4 separate regions of the Homo sapiens genome follow, and all the other regions are linked to region 1. Evidence: fine-mapped expression QTL. A gene starts in region 1. Each other region holds a variant in brackets. All regions are shown on one strand. Distances are between the middles of the regions. Region 1 holds the start of AKR1E2 (aldo-keto reductase family 1 member E2). Region 2 has its middle 48 kb from the start of AKR1E2. Region 3 has its middle 28 kb from the start of AKR1E2. Region 4 has its middle 23 kb from the start of LINC02561.

Region 1 (2,686 bases):
AATGGGGAGTTGCTGATCAAAGGGTACAAAGTTTCAAACACACAGGAGACACAGCTTTTAAGACTTACTGCGCACTAGGATGCCAACAGTCAACAATAATTTACTACACATGTGTATTTCAAAATAACAAGACATTTCAAACATCTTACCACAAACAATAATAACTGAGAGAGGTGATAGATATGTTAATTAGCTTGATTTAACCACATTGCAATTGTATACACGGCTCAAAACATTACGCTGCACCCCATAAATGCACAGAGCGATTATATGTCTCAGGCATCAGGGCAGGTTGCTTCTAAACAGGGAACAACATGAGATCCCAAAGTTTCTTTTAAAGCCTAATCAGCAATTCCAATTTTCCTTTTTTCTTTTTTTTTTTTTTTTTTCCAGCAAGGTCTGGCTCTGTCCCCAAGGCTGGAGTGCAGTGGCGCCATCAAAGCTCACTGCAGCATCGACTTCCTGGTCTCCAGTGATCCTCCCACCTCAGCCTCCTGAGTAGCTGGGACCACAGGCGCGCACCCCCAAGCCCAGCTGATTTGTTCATTTTTTGTAGAAACAGGGTTTCGCCATGTTGACCTGGCTGGTCTTGAACTCCTGAGCTCAGGCGATCCTACTGCCTCGGCCTCCCAAAGTGCTGGGATTACAAGCCCGCACCCCACGCCCGGCCCCAACTTTTCTTTCTCTCTTTGCTGGAGAGGAGGCTTCGAGGTTCCCTGTTCCGGCCGAGTCCAGCGCCGCCAAGGCCTCCCCTCGGCATCCCCGCTCCAGTTCTGAGTAACTTCAAGGGCTCCGCCTCTCCACAGAGCAGCCCCGCCCAACGCCGCGGCCGCAGCCCCAGAGTCTGAGGCTTGGCTGCCGAGGTTCCCGCTTCTCCCAGAGAGCGCCTCGGCGGGCAGCACCGACTCCGTTTTAGGAAAGGCCGGGCCGGGCTGCTTGTGGGCGGTGGGCGGCCACCTCAGCAGCGCCTTTCCCGGGCGTCGGCCAGGCGGAGGGGAGGCCGCCGCACTTCTCCCCAGCCCCGGCCTGGGTCCCATCGGGCGCCCCCAAGTCCCGCGCTCCCCTAGGTCAGGCGCGCCTCCCTGCCCGCGACCGCGTCACCTTCCAGGAGCTGAGGCCCACGGCTGGGATATCTCCCATGGCCGCCGCCGGCCGCCCCGCCGCCCCGCCGCCCCGCACGCGACTACCGACAGGCACCGCGCGAGCTACTGCGGCGCTGGCGACCCGCCGTTGCGACTGGCTGGAAGTGCCTTGTGACGGCTGACACTCCGACAATGGCTGGAAGCATGAACGCAGGGCTTCCTGACTGGCTGCTGGTGTCGCGCGCCGGGCACTGACTGGCTGGTTGTATTAAGGACGGGCACCCCGATTGGCTGGAGGCGCAGAGCCAGCTGGAGTCCCAAATGGCTGGAAGCACCGCGCTCTGGACATCCTGATTGGCTGGCGGCATAGACGACGGAATTTTCGATTGGCTTGCAGAGCCACGCAGGAGCAGGGAAGGTTTTACAATCGGCTGGCATTGCCGCTCACGCCCCCACCTTAGGTGTGACCTCCTGGTTGCCTTCTCCCTCGCACCGGGTGCATATGCGACTGAGGGTAGGGCAGAGGTGCTAGGTTGATGGGCAGAGAGTCTTCACCGTTCCAGGGCCTCGCCATGGCCGGGCCATCCTAGGGCAAGCTCTAGGGTCAGGGTGCAGAGTCCTGCGTCCCCTGGGGCACAGGGTGCGCGGGAGTGGGTCCCCGCTCTCTTGTACCAAGGATGGCCATTCTCAGGTGCCCCGAGGCCCCCAGTCTGGGAGAAGCGTGCCTGGCCTTGGTTCCCCGTCAGGGAGCCACTGTGCCCTTGGAAAATGCCTTCCACTCCCTGGGTCCTGGCCCAGAGCGGCTGGGGCTTGCAGGACAGCGGGGGTCCTGGGTGGTGCAGGGGAGGCCGAGCCCTGCATGTAGAGGGGAGCGTCCTTGCTTGCAGCCTCGGGCCCCCGTTTGGAAGTGGATGGGGTGGACTGGACACCCCCCTTATGAGTGGACTGGGCTCCCCCAGGGCCAGTGGAGGGAAAGAGGGGTCAAGGGAGCCTTCCGACGCCCCTCTTATCTCTCCTGGAGCTTACAGCTCCCCCTTCATTGCCCCCCTCAGCCCTGGGAGTCCTACTGCCTTGAGGACACCCACACCCAGATGAGGGCTTTGTTTCTAGGTTCCTTGCCTGGGTCTTCAGTGCTGGCCATCAGGGGAGGCGCTGCCCATTCTGCTCAATGGGGCGGCTGCAGCCAGAGAAACTCCCAGGGTCACTCTGGGTGTCCCCCTGCCTCCCACCCAACTTGCATCTCCTGTGAGCATCCATCTCCTCAATGTGAGCTCCTCACAGGTGGGAAGGGGGATCTTCGATACTCTCATTTATTCATTCAGAAACTGTGCCTGGAGCACTCACCTGTGCACGGGGCAAGTTAGGCCAGGGTGCAGTGCTGAAAATGACCTGCATGGGCCTTGCCCTCAGGAGCTCACCATCTGTAGGAATGAATGGACAGAGCATAAAAGCAAATGCATGAGAAAAAAAAAGAGCAGGTGCTATAGTAAAATAAAGCAGGTGCTTGTGGTGAGAGGCGGAAGGGACAGAGTGAGGGAATCCTCAACACCTCAATGAAGTGGCATTTATGCTGCAAACAGAAAGGCAAAGAGTGAGGGAACCAG
Region 2 (2,686 bases), 48 kb before region 1:
TTTAATGGCCCTTCAAACTTTTAGACTCTATGATTCTCAGAAGGCTGTAGAGAAAAATCTGTAAGCTATTTTTTTTTCTGTTCAGTGACATTTAGTACATATATGTATGTAAACATCTCCAAACACGGGAAGAGCAAGCAATCCAGTAGCTCCTGGACAGACTCCCATCCTCCCCTGCCAACCAGCCCCTTAACTCCCTTGAGGCTAACATGGTCTTTGTCACTGTTAGTTCAGTCACTACAGGAGCCTAAAATTCCTGGTTCCCAAATAGCTCTGTGTACACCACCTCAACATGTTTTCACTGTGCTTTCTGAAACTCCTACTCAACCACTGGCAAAACCGTTTTATCTTTGTTGTCTTCTCTAAATGTTCTTTTCACCTTTTCCCAATAGCTGAAACCCCATTTCTCTTGGTAGCACTGATTCCTGTCAGCCCTCTCCAGTTGGGGCTGTTATCCTTCCCAAGACCTTAGTAGTGCTAAGCCTGAATATTGAGTAGGAACTCTCTTTCTAAAAGCATTCAGCTCTGGACTTTGTGTCATCAGACAAACCCAGCACTACCCCTGTCCTTTGCAGTCATCAGGGCTGCATTCCCAGGTCTTCTCTCATCCACCGAAGATTTTAGTTCCTAGTTTTCATCCTCTCCAACAGTAGACCTGCCATAATTTCTTTTGATTTCAACACTACAGAGACAGTCCTTGTAATAGTCTGATCTTTCAGTTTTGTGACTTTCCTCTTCCAATGTGTTTATCCTTCAGTCTAACTCAGCCTATCAACCTAATGGTCTCATTCTAGACCTTGTCATTACGAGTTACTATAACCATGCCTGGATGTCAATTTTAAATTCTTACACTATAGTCATCACCTCCTACATGTCCCGCTCCTTCTCTACATGGCCAACTTCAACAATCCTTTGATTACCACATGAGCTATAATTCACTGACCGTACCACCTTTTCACTGTTACTTGACCCTCTAATGTGCCCTCTGTCCTTCTTTGCCTACTTAAATTATGGGGTCAATCAATATACCAACATCCTTGTAAATACCCTCAACCCTTGCCATTTCTTCTAATGTTCTTTGCTGGTTTCTCTGCATTAGCTTGACCTCTCAGTTTTGGAGTGACTTAGAGCTCAACCTAGACCTCTTCTCCTTTCTCTATCTACTTTAACATCATTGTTGATTTCATCTAGTCTCATGCTTCAAATATCATCTAAATATAGATTCCCCAAATCATATCCAGCCCAGTTCAAGGCTCTGGAGCAAGGTTTGTATATGTGTCTACTTGCCTCTACTTGGATATCTACTATGCATCTCCAACTTATCATGTCTGTAACTGGGCTCATACTGGTATCTGCAATCCCTTCCCCAATACACACAGACACACAGACACACACACACACACACACACACACACACACACACCCCACACTCATACCGATATCTTTATGATAAAGTAACTGGCTCCTGGTAGTGCTCCCTCTTCTGTACTTCAGC[A/C]CCAGGCATAGTAGCCACAGTGAACAGGTTAAAAAGGGTGTACACAGGAACTCCTCAATATGTGGGAGACTGCCATCTCACTCAGAGTTGAGACCAAATTCCTTACACAGACCTACAAGGGCCAATAGACACTCCCTCCCTTAACTCTCTGTGTCCCTGTCCTGCTATTCTCCCCACTCTTGACTCCAATGGAGCACCAGTGACCTCCATGCTGTTCCTGACTGTATTAGTCCATTTTCACACTGCTGATAAAGACATACTCAAGACTGGGTAATTTACAAAAGAAGAGAGGTTTAATGGACTTACAGTTCCAAGTGTCTGGGGAAGCCTCACAATCATGACAGAAGGCAAGGAGAAACAAGTCGCGTCTTACATGGATGGCAGCAGGCAAAAAGAGAGCCTGTGTAGAGAAACTCCTGTTGTTAAAACCATCAGATCTCGTGAGACTCATTCACTATCACAAGAACAGCGCAGGAAAAACCCACCCTCATAATTCAACCACCTCCCACTGGGTTCCTCCGACGACACATGGGAATTGTGGGAGTTACAATTCAAGATGAGATTTGGGTGGGGACACAGCCAAACCACATCACTGACATATGTCAGGCCTGTCTTAGGGCCTTTCCACTGGCCATTCCCCCTGCCTAGAAATCTCTTTCCCCATAGAGCAGGATTGCTCACTCCTTTACATCCTTCAGGTCTTCACTCATATATCACTCGATGATGCCTTCTCTGTCACTTATCTAAAAATGCAACTCGTCCTAGAAGAGCCTTTCTCTCTATTCTGATTTATTTTTGTGCTTGACACATATCCCTAACTTACACACCATATATTTTACTAGTTTATTTAGCTTATTTTATCTTTACCACATTAGAGTGTTAGATTCTAAGGGCAGGGTTTTTGTTTTGTTTTTGTTCTTAAACTAGTCTCTCCCTGGGTACTCAATACATATTGGTTGAATAAATAACATAATAAAATGAGAAACAGGGTAGGGGTAACAGAGAGTGGAGATGCAGGCAGGAACCCCTAACAATAAATATCAGTAATATTAATCAACAATAACTATTCAATGACTTGGCATTTTCTATGTCAAAAATTATTACTTCATATACAGAAAGAATTTGTATCCCCCTTGCTAAAATGGAACTACCCCATTGAAGTGACTTCATCTTCTAACCACTGTATCTCTC
Region 3 (2,686 bases), 28 kb before region 1:
GCAGCAAAGTTTATAACTGACACGTCTGCTTGGCCATCTTGAACAGCAGGTGTATAGCTGTCCTAAGCCCATATTCTATTCTAAGATACTCCTCCTTATGACAGAACAATACAGAAAGACACACAAAGCACATCAGATTTGCCCCAACTTATGACTAGCCTCACAAATCCTTTTTTCCATTAATCAACACTTTACAAAGAAGAGAAGATAAACAGTTATTTTTACCATTCATTCAACCCATTTGCAGGGATGGTGAAGCACTGCCTGAGGCAGGGTGGGAAAGGCAAGGTGCTCAGGGAGGACAGAGAAAGACCCACCCAAAGGCAGCTACACTGAAAAGTTCAGGTGGCAACTTGTGGTCATGAAGCGATCTTTTCCAGCAGTCCCATCAGCTCTCAAGTTTCCCTTCTTAGGGAGGAAAAAGCTCCCCATGTCCCATGATCCTGTACATGTCTAATCCTGTCACCCATAGCCATCAGCAAAGAGGGCAAGGCAGATTATTCCAAAGACAATAGCAGTTAACATCCCATAGTGCCAAACCCATTCTTAGCCGAAAGAGACTTTACCCAGAGGGGCCTCTAACCCTCCTTAGTTGGGCCTCTAACCCAAGGTCAGTCAAGTGTCCTTGCCTTTTATGAAGAGGGGCCTCTAACCTACTCTGTCTTAGGAGAGACCCTAACTCCCCTAAGTTAGGCCTGCTACCAAATCCCATTCTTTACCTGGGTATACACACCCCACTTACCCAAAGTCCGCTGATCACTGCTGTAGTCTATTTCCTTTGGGTGGGAGGTCTCCTCAGTATCAGCCCTTTTGTGGTTCATGAGAAAAATGTTACTGGACCCCACCCACCACTTACCCAAAGTTAGCCTCTGGGTCGGGGCGGGGGGTTCCTCACTATAGTCCCTTCAGTGGTCACAAGAAAGATGTTACAGCAAAGGGTCTGGAAGAAGACCCCAAGAGAGGGTTCTTAGATCTCGCACGAGTGAATTCAGGGCAAGTCCACAGAGTAAAGTGAAAGCAAGTTTATTAAGAAAGTAAAGGAGTAGGCCAGGTGCGGTGGCTCATGCCTATAATCCCAGCACTTTGGGAGGCCAAGGTGGGCAGATCATGAGGTCAGGAGTTAAAGACCAGCCTGGTCAATATGGTGAAACCCCATCTCTACTAGAAATACAAAAATTAGCTGGATGTGGTGGCATGCACCTGTAGTCCCAGATACTCGGGAGGCTGAGGCAGAAGAATCACTTGAACCCGGGAGGTGGAGTTTGCAGTGAGTTGAGATAGTGCCACT[A/G]TACTCCAGCCTTGGCAGCAGAGCATGACTCTGTCTAAAAAAAAAAAAAAAAAAAAAAAAAAACAGTAAAGGAGTAAAAGAATGGCTACTCCATAGACAAAACAGCCCCAAGGGCTGCTGGCTGCCCAGTTTTATGGTTATTTCTTGATGATATGCTAAACAAGGAGTACATTATTTCTGCCTCCCCTTTTTAGACCCTATAGGGTAGCTCCCTGACATTGCCATGGCGCTGGTGGGAGTGTAGCATTGAGGACGACCAGAGGTCACTCTCATCGCCATCTTGGTTTTGGGGGATTTATTGCAACCTGTTTTATCAGCAAGGTCTTTATGACCTGTATTTTGTGTGACCTCCTATCTCATCCTGTGACTTAGAATGCCTTAACCATCTGGGAATGCAGCCCAATAGGTCTCAGTCTCATTTTACTCAGCCCCTATTCAAGGTGGAGTTGCTCTGATTTAAATGCCTCTGACAGTTGTCCCCACTTTCAGTTGTTCCATGTTTCCAGACCAAACCAAAGTCTATCTCACTTATACGGATTGGTGTCTTATGTCTCCCTAAAACATATAAAACTAAGCTGTAACCAGACCACAATGGGCACATGTCCTCAGGATCTCCTGAGGCTGTGTCATGGGTCATGGTTCTCATATTTGGCTTAGAATCAATCTCTTCAGATATTTTACAGAGTTTGGTTTTTTTTTTTTTTTTGGCAACAAGTTCCTCATTGCAATATTGCAATTAACCTTAAACAAACTACTGTGTGTCCAGTCTAATGTATCAAAGAAATACAATTATCTGAAAAAGCTCTAAATATGCCTCCTTTTTCCAACTACTAATTTATGAGGCTGGGGTTTTTTCATGAAGTTTAGCCAAGACATTTTGATTGAATGCAGACTCAGATATGAAATCTACAAAGCCAGACTTATTAAATAAGTTTGCAAACATATAAAACAACGCCAATCTTGTAAATATTTTTCTTTTGCCTTGGGGAATATATTATGAGAGTTTGGCTCTGGTTACTATATGCTACAATAGTTTTTAGGGGCTTACTTTCCCCATTGCTTTGTAAATGATTCTAACTCCTAATTGAATTCAATTTCTTTGTTTCTTCTAGTAACATCTATCCCACTCTGATCATTTCCTGAGGTTTCCTAAATGTTCTTTTGTCTTAAGACATAGCCCCACAACCTCTTTTATCTCTTCAGCTTTAAAATATCCCTCAAGGTCACAGACACACACAGAAGGAAGACCATGTGAGGACACAGAAGGAAAAGTCCTGGAGAGAGGCCTCAGAAGAAACCAAATCTGTTAACACCTTGACCCTAGACTTCTAGCCTCTAAAACTGTGAGAAAATGGATTTCTGCCGTGTAAGCCAAAAAAAAGAATAAAATATTTTTAG
Region 4 (2,686 bases), 470 kb before region 1:
TTGCCCTAGTACCATCACTCCCACGTCCTAGTTTCAAGGAAGGCTGTTGTTTTAGTCCCAGCCCAAGGGAACATGTGAAGATATAGCCTCACAAAATTGAATGTGGAACTCTTGGACTTATTCTTACATGCCTGATTTAAAAAAAAATACTAGGGGCCGGGCGCGGTGGCTCACGCCTGTAATCCCAGCACCTTGGGAGGCTGAGGTGGGCGGATCATGAGATCAGGAGATCGAGACCATCCTGGCTAACACAGTGAAACCCCGTCTTTACTAAAAATACAAAAAAATTAGCCGGGTGTGGTGGCGGGCGCCTGTAGTCCCACCCAGCTACTCGGGAGGCTGAGGCAGGAGAATGGCGTGAACCCAGGAGGCGGAGCTTGCAGTGAGCCGAGATCGCGCCACTGCACTCCAGCCTGGGCGACAGAGCGAGACTCTGTCTCAAACAAACAAACAAACAAACAAACAAAACCTAGGAACAGTTGCACATAAAAGATACTCAGTAAATATTTCTGGAACTGAATTTCAGGTAGGCTATTTAGCCCCACCTATTAATCCTAACCTCTGGCAAAGGTGGCTTTAATCTTGTGAATGCTTAAGAAGCCTTAATGAGATTTAAGAAATTTTCCCAGGAACAAATAAGTTTTTCGTGTTATCCCCCTCAGTGAACACTGCGACACTTACATAACCCAGCATTCCTGCCCCATCAGCCTGAACTACAGAAGAAGGCGGTATTTCATTAACATCCCGTTGAGGATGCGGGGCCAGGGTCAGCCTGATTGACTGACACTCCTGTCTGCTCAGTGCCCCTCCTCCTCCCTCTCCTGCTCTGCTGTAGCCCAGGAGAGCGGCCTCTTCTGCCCTGGGTGCTGCCCTCTCTGCCTGCTGCCTTCCAGCTGGACTTGGCCACTGTGAGGCGCTGCTGAGAGCAGAAAGGGAAGCTGGAGTCCAGGTGCCTTTCTTCCCTTCTCTAGGGGACACAGCAGCAGCTTCCATCCCTCCAGTCGTCCTGGCTGCCTCCCTCAGGCCCTCCATGGCTGCTGCTTCTTCCAGGGACCCCGGGCTCTGCCTCCAGCACTGCTACCTCTGTTTCTCTAGC[C/G]TAGGAGGGTAGCGACTTCCTGTGTTTAAAAGCCTCTGGGTTGCTTTATTGTTTCCTGACTGGCTTCTTTGTAGATACTCCAACCGTCTGATTACACATCCTGTTTAAATAAGCAGCATGGATTTTTATATCCTGGTTCATGACTGATGCTGTTACCTCAAGATGCCCCTGGTGTTCTGAACCTCCTCAGGGCTGCCACCCTGCACCTGTCCACAAGCGGCCACGCGTGAACTCCCCCTGTGGCCACCATGCTGGCCTCCTGTGCTGCTGTGTTCTCTGACTAGAGCATTTGTCACTCAGCTGGGCATAGCTGTACTCTGCTGAGGAAGGCCCTGCTGTTAGTCCCAGCCCTGAGGGGAGGGATGACGAATGCTTTGCTGCTCTGTTTGAGTGCAACATGGGCCTCTCAATTTCCCACTGCAAAAAACAGTGTTGGACGCAATCTTTCATAAGGATTTAGAGATAGTTTGCAGATCACAGAAAATAAGAACAGAGCACAGAAAAACTTAAAAAAAAAAAAAACCCCACTGTGCCTATGCTTAGAACTCAATTTCATTCATTCCGCAAATATTTATTGAGCACTGACCACATACTAGGGAGCTTTTCTAGGTGTGGTGATTAGTGTTGGAGAAATCAGTCAATAAATATGAAAACATACCACAAAATAAGTGAATAATTCAGGCAATTGCTCTGGTCACAATTGTTCTGAAGGAACTAAAACTGAGGAGTAAGATGGAGAGACACAGTGGGGACTGGGGAGCTACTTTGATTAGAATGACACAGGGACAAAGACATCACCAAGAAGGTGAGACTGAAGCCAGAAACCAATGATGAGACAGAGGGGGTGATCGAGGCTCTGGAAAACCTCTGCACAGGTAGGTACGAGTCTCTATGTGATGCCCACATTTTCCTAGAGAAGAACTTGACAAGGACATGTCCATCTTGTTGCAGGGGCAGGGAGTGAGTCTCAGGAGATCTCAATTGAGTCTGTACCTTTGCTTGGGATGCAGGACCTGGGAGAGGTAGCCCAGAGCAGCATGAAGGCCTTGGCTGGGGTGGGGCAGGCCTGGGAGTGAGGGGCAGTGAGCAGCCCCAGAACACTATGACCCTGCTGCTATGGCCTCCCTTTGCCCTGTGCAATGAATGGAATCTTTACATCCCCACCAAAGTCGTATATGAAGCCTTAACCCCCAAGGTGATGCTATTTGGTGGTGGGTCCTGTGGAGGTGATTAGGTCGTGAGGGTGGAACCCTCATGAATGGGATTAGAGCCCCTCTTAGTCCATTTATTGTTGCTATAAAGGAGGACTTGAAGCTGGGTAATTTATAGAGAAAAGAAGTTTATTCAGCTCACAGTTCTGCTGGCTGGAAGTTTCAGGACTGGGCTTCTGGTGAGGGCCTCAGGCTGCTTCCAAGTGTGGAAGAAGGTGAAGGGGAGCTGGTGTGTGCGGAGATCGTGTGGTGAGACAGGAAGCAGGAAGGAGGGGAGGGGCCAGGTTCTTTTTAACAACTAGCTCTCATGGGAACTAATAGAGTAAGACCTTACCCCCCTCCCCTGGGAGGGCATTCATCTCTTCATGAGGCGTCTACC

What was found. PIP is the estimated chance that this variant, and not a neighbour inherited with it, causes the effect.
Region 2: its variant is fine-mapped to the expression of AKR1E2 in whole blood (TOPMed, PIP above 0.99).
Region 3: its variant is fine-mapped to the expression of AKR1E2 in whole blood (INTERVAL, PIP above 0.99).
Region 4: its variant is fine-mapped to the expression of AKR1E2 in whole blood (TOPMed, PIP 0.94).

Annotation. Positions count from the first base shown.
Region 1 is chr10:4,824,779-4,827,464 of GRCh38, reverse strand. It overlaps AKR1E2 (aldo-keto reductase family 1 member E2), which reads right to left and starts at 1,258. Exons shown (of 10, transcript NM_001040177.3): 1 at 1,102-1,258. The coding sequence starts at 1,140. RefSeq lists a silencer at 752-831.
Region 2 is chr10:4,872,423-4,875,108 of GRCh38, reverse strand. It overlaps a transcript of AKR1E2 not described here and the pseudogene AKR1C6P. Among named protein-coding and RNA genes, the nearest start is that of AKR1E2, 48 kb to the right of the region's middle. The variant A/C (reference allele first, on the strand shown) is at 1,496.
Region 3 is chr10:4,852,751-4,855,436 of GRCh38, reverse strand. It overlaps a transcript of AKR1E2 not described here. Among named protein-coding and RNA genes, the nearest start is that of AKR1E2, 28 kb to the right of the region's middle. The variant A/G (reference allele first, on the strand shown) is at 1,289.
Region 4 is chr10:5,292,498-5,295,183 of GRCh38, reverse strand. No RefSeq gene overlaps it. Among named protein-coding and RNA genes, the nearest start is that of LINC02561, 23 kb to the right of the region's middle. The variant C/G (reference allele first, on the strand shown) is at 1,097.